Linked DNA regions of Homo sapiens. The protein of the gene in region 2 interacts with the protein of the main gene of each other region in a pairwise test. Each region holds a gene or a part of one and is shown on either strand. Other genes may lie near its edges. The genes, in order: FRMPD4 and STK36.

Evidence for each region.
Region 1: the proteins of STK36 (region 2) and FRMPD4 interact in a two-hybrid assay, tested with the Homo sapiens proteins (one study listed by BioGRID and IntAct).

What each region holds. Positions count from the first base shown.
Region 1 is NC_000023.11:12,722,473-12,725,023, reverse strand, and holds the end of FRMPD4 (FERM and PDZ domain-containing protein 4), read right to left. Parts: 3' UTR 501-2,551; downstream 1-500. UniProt on the Homo sapiens protein: Positive regulator of dendritic spine morphogenesis and density. Required for the maintenance of excitatory synaptic transmission. Binds phosphatidylinositol 4,5-bisphosphate.
Region 2 is NC_000002.12:218,681,802-218,689,337, reverse strand, and holds part of STK36 (serine/threonine-protein kinase 36), read right to left. Parts: intron 4,254-7,536; coding exon 4,110-4,253; intron 642-4,109; coding exon 462-641; intron 1-461.

The DNA.
Region 1 (2,551 bases), on a different chromosome or scaffold from region 2:
GACAATGGTTATCTTTGGAAGTTGGGTTTAAGGGGATTATTACTTTCTCCATCATTTATTTCTGTAATGTTTATTTGATAATATTAAGGAATTCCCAATTTTTAAAATGCAAAAACGTCATTGTGGTTATGTTTAAAAGTTCTCACAGGATATTCTTACTGAAATATTCATGGGCTAAGCACTATGATGTCTGGGACTTGCTTGTAAATCATACAGTGGGAGAGGAGGTGGGTAGAAATACAGAAAATAAGATTAGACATGAATCGGTAGGTAATGAGTCCACATGAATTCATACGATTGTGTCTACTTTTGTTTGAAAGATTTGTGATAAAAGATTAATAAAAATGGTAGGAGATAAACTTGGCAAAGTAGACTGGGGACTAAACATAAAGAACCGTGAGTATAAGGAAGGTTTATTCTCCAGTTCAGTGCTCTCCAGATTTCAGTGAATGCAACCCTACCTGCGACAATATTGTCACATGCATGCACCAGGCATATGCTTATTTATTCATTCATTCATTTATTTATTTAAAATTATGTACATGTACCATTGTACTATTATGCCATTATAAAACATACACAAACATAAAAAAGCTAGATAAAAATAAGCACAAGTATTGTTCTAATATGTTCTTCCTACACTCTATGGACCTGGACCCCAGTTAGGAGCCCCATGCTTAGTGAATGTGGGGGCCCCTTGAGGTTTTCTGAATAGCAAAGAGTTTATTTATAAGAAACAGAAACTTACTGGCGCAGTAATGGGAGGTTGATTAGAAGGACCCAGAGCTACTTCCCTGAGGCTTCTCAAAGAACTCCAATGGACTGGGAAGTTGTTCTAACTAGATACGTAACTTGAACAAGGATGGCCACTTCCTTGTACACTTCTTTTACATATATGCAATACACATAATGTGTTCTGCACACAGTCAGGATACAATATGCATATAAAACAAACATTCCCCCACATATTATCTTGGGCAATATATTTAACACAACGATTATGATGATAATAATAGCTAACATTAATTGAATACTTACTCTCTGCCAGGTATTGTGGTAAGAACTTTACATACACATTTTTACTCAAAACTCATGACAACCCTATGGAAATCGATCTTATAATTGATTTTCATTTTATTATGAGGAAATTGAGACTAGAAAAAGTAGCTTTCCCAACATAAAAGGGCTAGAAAATGGCAGAGTCAAAATTTTAATCAAGATGTTTCTGACCCCAAACCCCATATCCGTAAGAACTCATCCATATTGCCTCCAGAGAGAATAGTGTCCAAACCAGCAGATTGTTGTGATGATTAAATGAGATAATATAGTTAATATGCTTAGCACACTGTCTGACATAGGGCACACATCCTATTAATAGGTTAGGATTTTAGTACACAGAATGATATTTACTAAGATTTTCCACAGTAAACACCACTAATATCTCTCAATATCAAAACACCAATATTTATAATTATAATTGTAATGAAATAATGTTTTATTATTTAGTTAAACATTATTTATAATAACACACACCTAAACTCCTTTCCTTTGCTGCCATCCATAACCACGTGCGGCTTTTGTTGTTGAGTCCCTGTGGAATGGCTGACTAGAGAGAGATTGCAATTGTGGACTGTGTTATGACTCCTTCTCAGCAGGCTACAAAAGTAGAAATATTTGCACCTGGTGTACTCCCATCATGTTCTTAAGGAGCCACCTGTCTAAGTAGGAGTGCATGTAACTTGAGCACTGAATGACCCAGGAAATACATATATACATATCGATTTTATTTTATGACTGCAGGGTACTTTTAGAGATGTGACAGTCCTGGAAAGTTCTTTGCATTCCATTGGTTTCACTTGAACTGGTCAAATATACCACTTCCATTTCTTTCTTTTTTTTTTCAGATTTCATATTTTTATCAGCCAATCCAGATTAAGTATTTATTTAATAAATACTTAACTATTTACTCATGGCTCCCATGATTACAGTAGCCATCTCTCCCTGATTTTCTGGAACATCCAAGATTTGAGATTTTGTCCCAGTACTACGCTATAATTCCAAATTTGACTGGCAGCCTTAGCCTCTGTAGAGGCGGTGATGCATGAAGCCCTATGCTGAGAGCTGTGATCTGAGATGAGACTCACAGGTGCTGGTGTGTGGTCTGGTCTACATTACTGAATCTGTACTTAATTTTGATGATCATTAAATGTTCCTTTTTTTAAGTTTGCAAATACTTTACTAAATGTCCTATCACTCTAAAGGGAATTTTAAGTTTCGTAGTTGAGTTGGGATGAGGGGAAGATAATGTCTTTGGTTTGCAGATTTTTGACATTTAGTCAAAGCAGATCTTTCCATCAAATAATTAATTTTGGTATTATTAATTCCATACATTTTATGTAATGAGATATTCTATAACTCTAGGTGTTACCTAGGAAACTGCCCATCATCCCCTCTGTTCTTCTCCCCGGGAAGTTTTTTAAATGCTAGAACCACTGTGAAGAGCATTTGTGCTGACACAGTAGAATCCATCCCCACCAATTTGTAGCCCCAG
Region 2 (7,536 bases):
GTACTCTGCTCTGTAAGATCAGGTCAATGAAGCCTAGGATCTAACATTTCAAAGCACAGCGCTCTAAATATTTAAAAATTACACATAAAAATTTGGGTTTCTACCTTTTCTTAGAAAACTAGAAGATCTGGCTAGTTTTCTCAGGCCCATATTTCCCTGTGGCAACAATGGGCTGGAGGCTGAGGAAAGGATGCCTCTACTCTATTTAGAGGAGGCATGTGAACTCTAGTTCATCATATTCCCCACAACTCATATAGTCACATGCATAGCCTACTTCATGGCAGACCTTATCTGCCTGGCCCCAGAAGGCATTAGAGTTTGCAATTAATAGTCTACTAACTAGAAAGAGGAGGAAAGAAAATAAAAGGCAGTCAGACCAAAGAGAGATGGCAATCTGAATGAGATAAATCCAAGAAAAAGAACCTCTGTAAGTCTTCAGAGGCTTCTGGCCTGGTGCTTACCTGCTGGAGGCTGTTGCTCTCCTGACTGTGCCTGAGTAGACTCAGCAGCAGCCCAGGAAGCCCTGCCTCCCGGCAGAAGGAATACAAGGCAACAGAATCACTGCAGCTGGAGAGAAGACTGCTCAGGACCCGGAATGCAGGCAGGATGTGGGAAGCACCCTCCAAGATGCCTTTCAGGATCTGGGTGACATGAGGGAAAGAGGCAACGATTGATATTTTCAGAGGTAAAAGAAGGAGAACTACACATACCAAGCATCCCCAAGGAGCTGGGAAAGCAGACCACATGCTTGCATTCCTTTCTTTGCAAGTCTAAAACACAGAGAAGGAAAGCAGGGAAATAGGGGAACTGTACCAGGGAAGAAGACAATAGATGGTCAGGTTACCTAACACAGAACACCAGTGACCAACGGATAGGGGCCTCTCCTCAGGATCTCTGTCAGACTAAGTGCCATTCCCATCTGCTCCCTCCCTTCTCCAGCCCTTCACCTTAAAAACAAAAAACACGTGCACCGCACATGCTTCTGAAAATTCAAAACAATGCATATAAAACAATATTATTTAACCACAGAAAGACAAAACAACATTATTCAACTCTAGATCAGGGTTGACAAACTATGGCTCACAGGTCAAATCCAGCCTAACATTTATTTGTATACAGCCTGCATGCTAAGGATAGTATTATATTTTTATTTATTTTTGCCCTTTATTTATTTTTCGAGACAGAGTTTCACTCTTGTCCTCCAGGCTGGAGTGTAATGGTGCAATCTTGGCTCACTGCAACCTCTCTGCCTCCTGGGTTCAAGTGATTCTCCTGCCTCAGCCTCCCAAGTAGCTGGGATTACAGGTGCCCACCACCACACCTAGCTAATTTTTGTATTTTTAGTAGAGATGGGATTTCACCATGTTGGCCAGGCTGGCCTCAAACTCCTGACCTCAAGTGATCCTCCCACCTCAGCCTCCCAAAGTGCTAGGATTACAGGCGTGAGCCACCATGCCTGGCCAGTATTGTATTTTTAAATGGTTATTCTTCAAAAGAAGAACATTTACACCAAGTATTTTATAATATTCCATTAGCTGTTCTAAATGTTGGCATCTGCTCATTTAATATTTACAATAACCCTGTGAAATAAATAGAATTAGCCATTTTATAGATGAAGAAACTGAAGCTTCTGCATAAGTCAAGTAAGTAGTCCAAGATCACGCAGCTAATGAGTAGTGCAGCTGGAATTCCACCAGAGGGAGTCTTATCCCTAAAGGCAGAGCTTTCAGTCTGCCTCCCCACACTGCAAGTTATCCAACACTAGGAGGAAAACGTGTTAGCGCCAAAAGACAAGTGCAAAGTGCCAAGCCAATTCAATGAGGAAAGGAGAGTTCTTTTCCACAAATGGTGCCAGGACAATTATATATCCACATGCAAAAACGATCAACTTAGATCCTTTCCTCACATTATATACAAAAATTAGCTCAAGATGGATCAGAAACCTACATGTAAGAGCTAAAACTATAAAACTTAGGAAAAGAGAAAATCTTTAAGACCTTGCATTTGGAAAAGATTTCTTATACACAACATCAAAAGTATGAACCACAAAGGGAAAAAACAGTAACTGAACTTAAATCAAAATTCAACATTTTTTGCTTCAAAAGACACTCTTATGAGAAAGAATGAAAAGACAAACCACAGACTGGGAGAAAATATTTGCAAATCACCCATCTGATAAAGGTCTTATGTTGACAATATACAAAGAAGTCTTACAACTCAATAACGCAAACAACCAAATTAAAAACTGAGCAGAAGATTTGAGATATTTCACCAAAGAAGATATACAAATGGTGAATAAGCCATGAAAAGATGTTCAACATTCATCATTAGTGGAATGTAAATTAAAATAACAATGAGATACTATCTCACACTTACTAGAATGGCTATAGTAAAAAAGTTAGACAATAACAAGTGTTGACAAGGATGTGAAGAAACAAGGACCCTCATATAATACTGGTGGGAATGTAAAATGGTACAGCCACTTTGGAAAATAGTTCAGCAGTTTCTTAAAATGTTAAATATAAATTTACCATATGACCAGCAATTCTACTCCTACGTAGTTACCCAAGGGAAATAAAAACATTTATCCATACATAGACTTGCTTGTGAATGTTCATAGCAGCATTATTCATAAAAGCTAAAAAGTGGAAACAACCCAATACATCAATATCTAATCAACTAGTGAGTGGATAAACAAAATGTGATATATCCATATAACGGAATACTAACCAGCTATAAAAAGGGGAATAATGATTAACTGTAAATGGGGGCTGGGGGCAGTAGCTCATACCTATAATCCTAGCACTTTGGGAGGCCAAGGTGGGAGGATTACTTGAGCCCACTTGAGCCCAGGAGTTCCAGACCAGCCTGGGCAACATGGTAAAACCCTATCTCTACAAAAAATACAAAAAATTAGCTAAGCATGGTGGTGCACGCCTGTAATCCAAGCTACTTGAGATGCTGAGACATGAGAATCCCTTGAACCAGGGAGGCAGAGGCTGCAGTGACCCAAGATTGTGCTACAACACTCCAGCCTAGATGACAGAGTGAGACCCCATCTCAAAAATTAAAAATAAATAAATAAATAAATTTTAAAAAGGCTGGGCACGGTGGTTCACGCCTGTAATCCCAGCACTTTGGGAGGCTGAGGCGGGCGGATCACAAGGTCAGGAGTTCAAGACCAGCCTGGCTAAGATGGTGAAACACCATCTCTACTAAAAATACAAAAAAATTAACCGGGCGTGGTGGCACGAGCCTGTAATCCCAGTCACTCCAGAGGCTGAGGCAGAGAATTGCTTAAACCTGCGCGGGGCAGAGGTTGCAGTGAGCCGAGATCACACCACTACACTCCAGCCTGGGTGACAGAGTGAGATTCCGTCTCAAAAAAAAAACCGTAAATGGGTATGAGGGATTTTACTGGGGTGATGAAAATGTTCTAAAACTGAACTATGGTTAACAGTTTTTAAATTAGCAAATTTACTAAAAATCATTTATCATTCATCAAAAAAGTGTAAATCTTATACATAAATTATACCTGAATAAAGTGATATAAGCAACACAGTTTGGCGAGTACCCAGGAAGGAAAAGCACTGTGTTTCAGAGGAGCAAAGTAAGGTTTTGTAGGAGGGAACACTAACTTTACACTAACTTTGAATGCTAATTAAGCAAAATGTCATTCCTCTCCCCCGCAAAATAACCTCATTCTTCTCACTAGTGTACCTGTAGTACAAAATATTGTATATTTAATTGTTACATTTATATTTTTAATTTCATCAATAAAAAATTAGTGAAAATGTGTTTTCCCTCATTATGTAAGTACTTAACATAATATCCTCCATTTTTGCCTGGTGGCTCACAATGCCTAAAATATTTATCATCAAAAAAGTTTGATCCCTATTCTAGTAGGCATTTTTCCCTTCAGAAAAAGAAACCTGAGGGCTGCTCTTTCTGTGTTACTAAAGGAGGTTGGTAAACCTCCTCAAACTAAGCAGATAGACTGAAGAACTGGAAAAGGACAAACTTTCTCTTTCTCCTGAAGTCAGTGTATTTCAATGCTCCATCTGTGAAAACAGTCTTGATCCCATCCACAGTGTCTTTCTCCCCATTACCTGCCCTCCAGCTTCATGCAGCTGACTCTGGATGCGCTGGCAGAAGTCAGGATTACACAGCAAGGTGAGAGGAGCCTTCAGTTGAATAGGCACAGGCTCAGTGGTCTCTAGCAGGTGCTGCCACTCATTGTCACTGTCTGGCTCCTGAGGCAGAGGGGAGTGAAAGGGGTCAGGAGTAGTGTGTAAGTCTAAGGTAGTAGATCCCAACCAGTAGAAACCATGGGGAATCATGAAGTAACTGCAAGGAGCCAGTGACCCCTTTAGCACAGATGTATATCTTCAGTCACCTGCTAAAAAAGGTACAGCTGGCAGTCTGTGAGGGGTCTGGAAGAGTCTCTTGGAGAACACCGGCATGTGTGCATAAAGAGATACCTAGAAAGACGTCCGCTGCAGCATGGTTTGTAATAATTTTAAAAAGGAAAAGATCATAAAGTCAGTCACTAAGGGAATAATAAACCAGGGTCCATCCATATTAGAAAATACGATGAGGTTATTAAAAAGATTGTGAATGCCGGGTGCGTGGCTCACACCTGTAATCCCACCACTTTGGGAGGCCGAGGCTGGCAGATCACCTGAGCTCAGGAGTTCAAGACCAGCCTGGCCAATGTGGTGAAACCCCCCTCTCTATGAAAATACAAAAATTAGCTGGGTGTGGTGGCACATGCCTGTAATCCCAGCTACTCAGGAGGCTGACACAGGAGAATTGTTTGAACCCGGGAGACAGAGTTTGCAGTGAGCCGAGATGTCACCACTGCACTCCAGCCTGGGTGACAGAGTGAGACTCTGTCTCAAAAAAAAAAAAAAAAAAAAAAAAGGCCAGGCGCAGTAGCTCACGCCTATAATCCCAGCACTTTGGGAGGCTGAGGCAGGCAGATCACCTGAGGTCGGGAGTTCAAGACCAGCCTGACCAACATGGAGAAACCCCACCCATCTCTACTAAAAATACAAAATTAGCCGGGTGTGGTGGCAGATGCCTGTAATCCCAGCTACTCGGGAGGCAGAGGCAGGATAATCGCTTGAATCCAGGAGGTGGAGGTGGCGGTGAGCTGAGATCGTGCCATTGCACTCCAGCCTGGGCAACAAGAGTGAAACTCTGTCTCAAAAAAAAAAAAAAAAAAAAAAGATCGTGAGGCTGGGCACATTAGCTCATACCTGTAATCCCAGCATTTTGGGAGGTCGAGGTAGGAGGACTGCTTGAGGCCAGGAGCTCAAGACCAGCCTGGGCAATATAGTAAGGCTCTGTCTCTTTAAAAAAAAAAAAAAAAAAGTGGCACATATACACCATGGAATACTATGCAGCCATAAAAAATGATGAGTTCATGTCCTTTGTAGGGACGTGGATGAAATTGGAAATCATCATTCTCAGTAAACTATCACAAGAACAAAAAACCAAACACCACATATTCTCACTCATAGGTGGGAATTGAACAATGAGAACACATGGACACAGGAAGGGGAACATCACACTCTGGGGACTGTTGTGGGGTGGGGGAAGGGGGAGGGATAGCACTGGGAGATATACCTAATGCTAGATGACGAGTTAGTGGGTGCTGCGCACCAGCATGGCACATGTATACATATGTAACTAACCTGCACATTGTGCACATGTACCCTAAAACTTAAAGTATAATAATAATAAATAAATAAATAAAAATAGGCCTGGTGCAGTGGCTCATGCCTGTAATCCCAGCACTTCAAGAGGCCGAGGCGGGCAGATCACAAGGTCAGGAGTTCGAGACCAGCCTGAACAACATGGTGAAACCCTGTCTCTACTAAAAATACAAAAATTAGCTGGGCATGGTGACAGGCACCTGTAACCCCAGCTACTCAGAAGGCTGAGGCAGGATAATCGCTTGAACCTGGGAGGCGGCGGTTGCAGTGAGCCAAGATCGTGCCACTGCACTCCAGCCCAGGCAACAGAGCAAGACTCCATCTTAAAAAAAAAAAAAAAAAATAGCTGGGCATGGTGCCATACACCTGTAGTCTCAGCTACTCAGGAGGCTGAGATGAAAGAATTGCTTACCCCATGAGTTCAAGGCTGCAGTGAGCCATGATTGCACCACTATAGTCCACCCTGTTGTCCAGGTGATAGAATAAGACACTGTCTCAAATAAATAAATAAAAAGATTAAGGTACTGAGGATGTATCACTTATGTAGTATTCCTACCAAAAATATATACAACCTGAATCTATTCATTAGGAAATAATCAATTTGAGGAACATTCTACAAAATAACTGACGTGTACCTCAAAACTATCAGTCATAAAATACAAAGAAAGACAAGAACTGTTCCAGATTAAAGGAGACTAAGGAGGCATAACAACTAAATGCAATGTGTGGGCTGGGCACAGTGGCTCACTGTAATCCCAGCACTTTGTGAGGCTGACGCGGGCAGACCACTTGAGTCCAGGAGTTCAAGACCAACCTGGACAAGATGGCGAAACCTTCTCTCTAAAAAAACACAAAAATTAGCCAGGCATGGTGGCAGGTGCCTGTAGTCCCAGCTACTCAGAAGGCTGAGGCAGGAGGATTGCTTGAGCTCAGGAGTCGGAGGTTACAGTGAGCCGAGATCACATCATTGCACTCCACCCTGGCAACAGAGTAAGACCCTGCTCAATAAATAAATAAATAAATAAATAAAGCAAGGTGTGATACTGGATTGGATCATGGAGCAGAAAAAAAATTTTCATAACGCACATTACTGAAGCAATTAGCAAAATTTGAATAAGGATTACAGATTAGTTTAATTAATCTATTATAACAGTATTATATCAATGTTAAATTTCTGACTTTCATAATTGTACTGTGTTAGTGTAAGTGAAGGATCTTGTTTTAGGAAATATGCGCTAAAGTATTTAGGGGTAAAGGGGCATGTGTACAACTTACCCTAAAATGATTCAGAAAGATGCTATGTCCATAGGGGGAGAGAGAGAGAGAGGATGGTAAAGCAAATGAGACAAAAGTTTTACAACTGATGAATTTGGGGTAAAAGTGTTGTTATAGGCTGGGTGTGGTGGCTCCAGCTTGTAATCCCAGCACTTTGGGAGGCCGAGGCAGGCAGATCACCTAAGGTCAGGAGTTTGAGACCAGCCTAGCCAACATGGTGAAACCCCATCTCTACTCAAAATACAAAATTAGCTGGGCATGATGGCACATGCCTGTAATTCCAGCTACTTGGGAGGCTGAGGCAGGAGAATCGCTTGAACCCAGGAGGCAGAGGTTGCAGTGAGCCAAGATCGTGCCGTTGCACTCCAGCCTGGGCAACAAGAGCAAAACTCCATCTCAAAAAAATAAAAAAAATAAATAAAAAGTGTTGCTATGGTTTGAATGTTCTGTCCTCTCCAAAACTCACGTGTTAGAAACTTAATCCCCATTGCACCAGTGTTAGGAGGCAGCGCCTAATCAGAAGTGTTTAGGTCACAAGGGC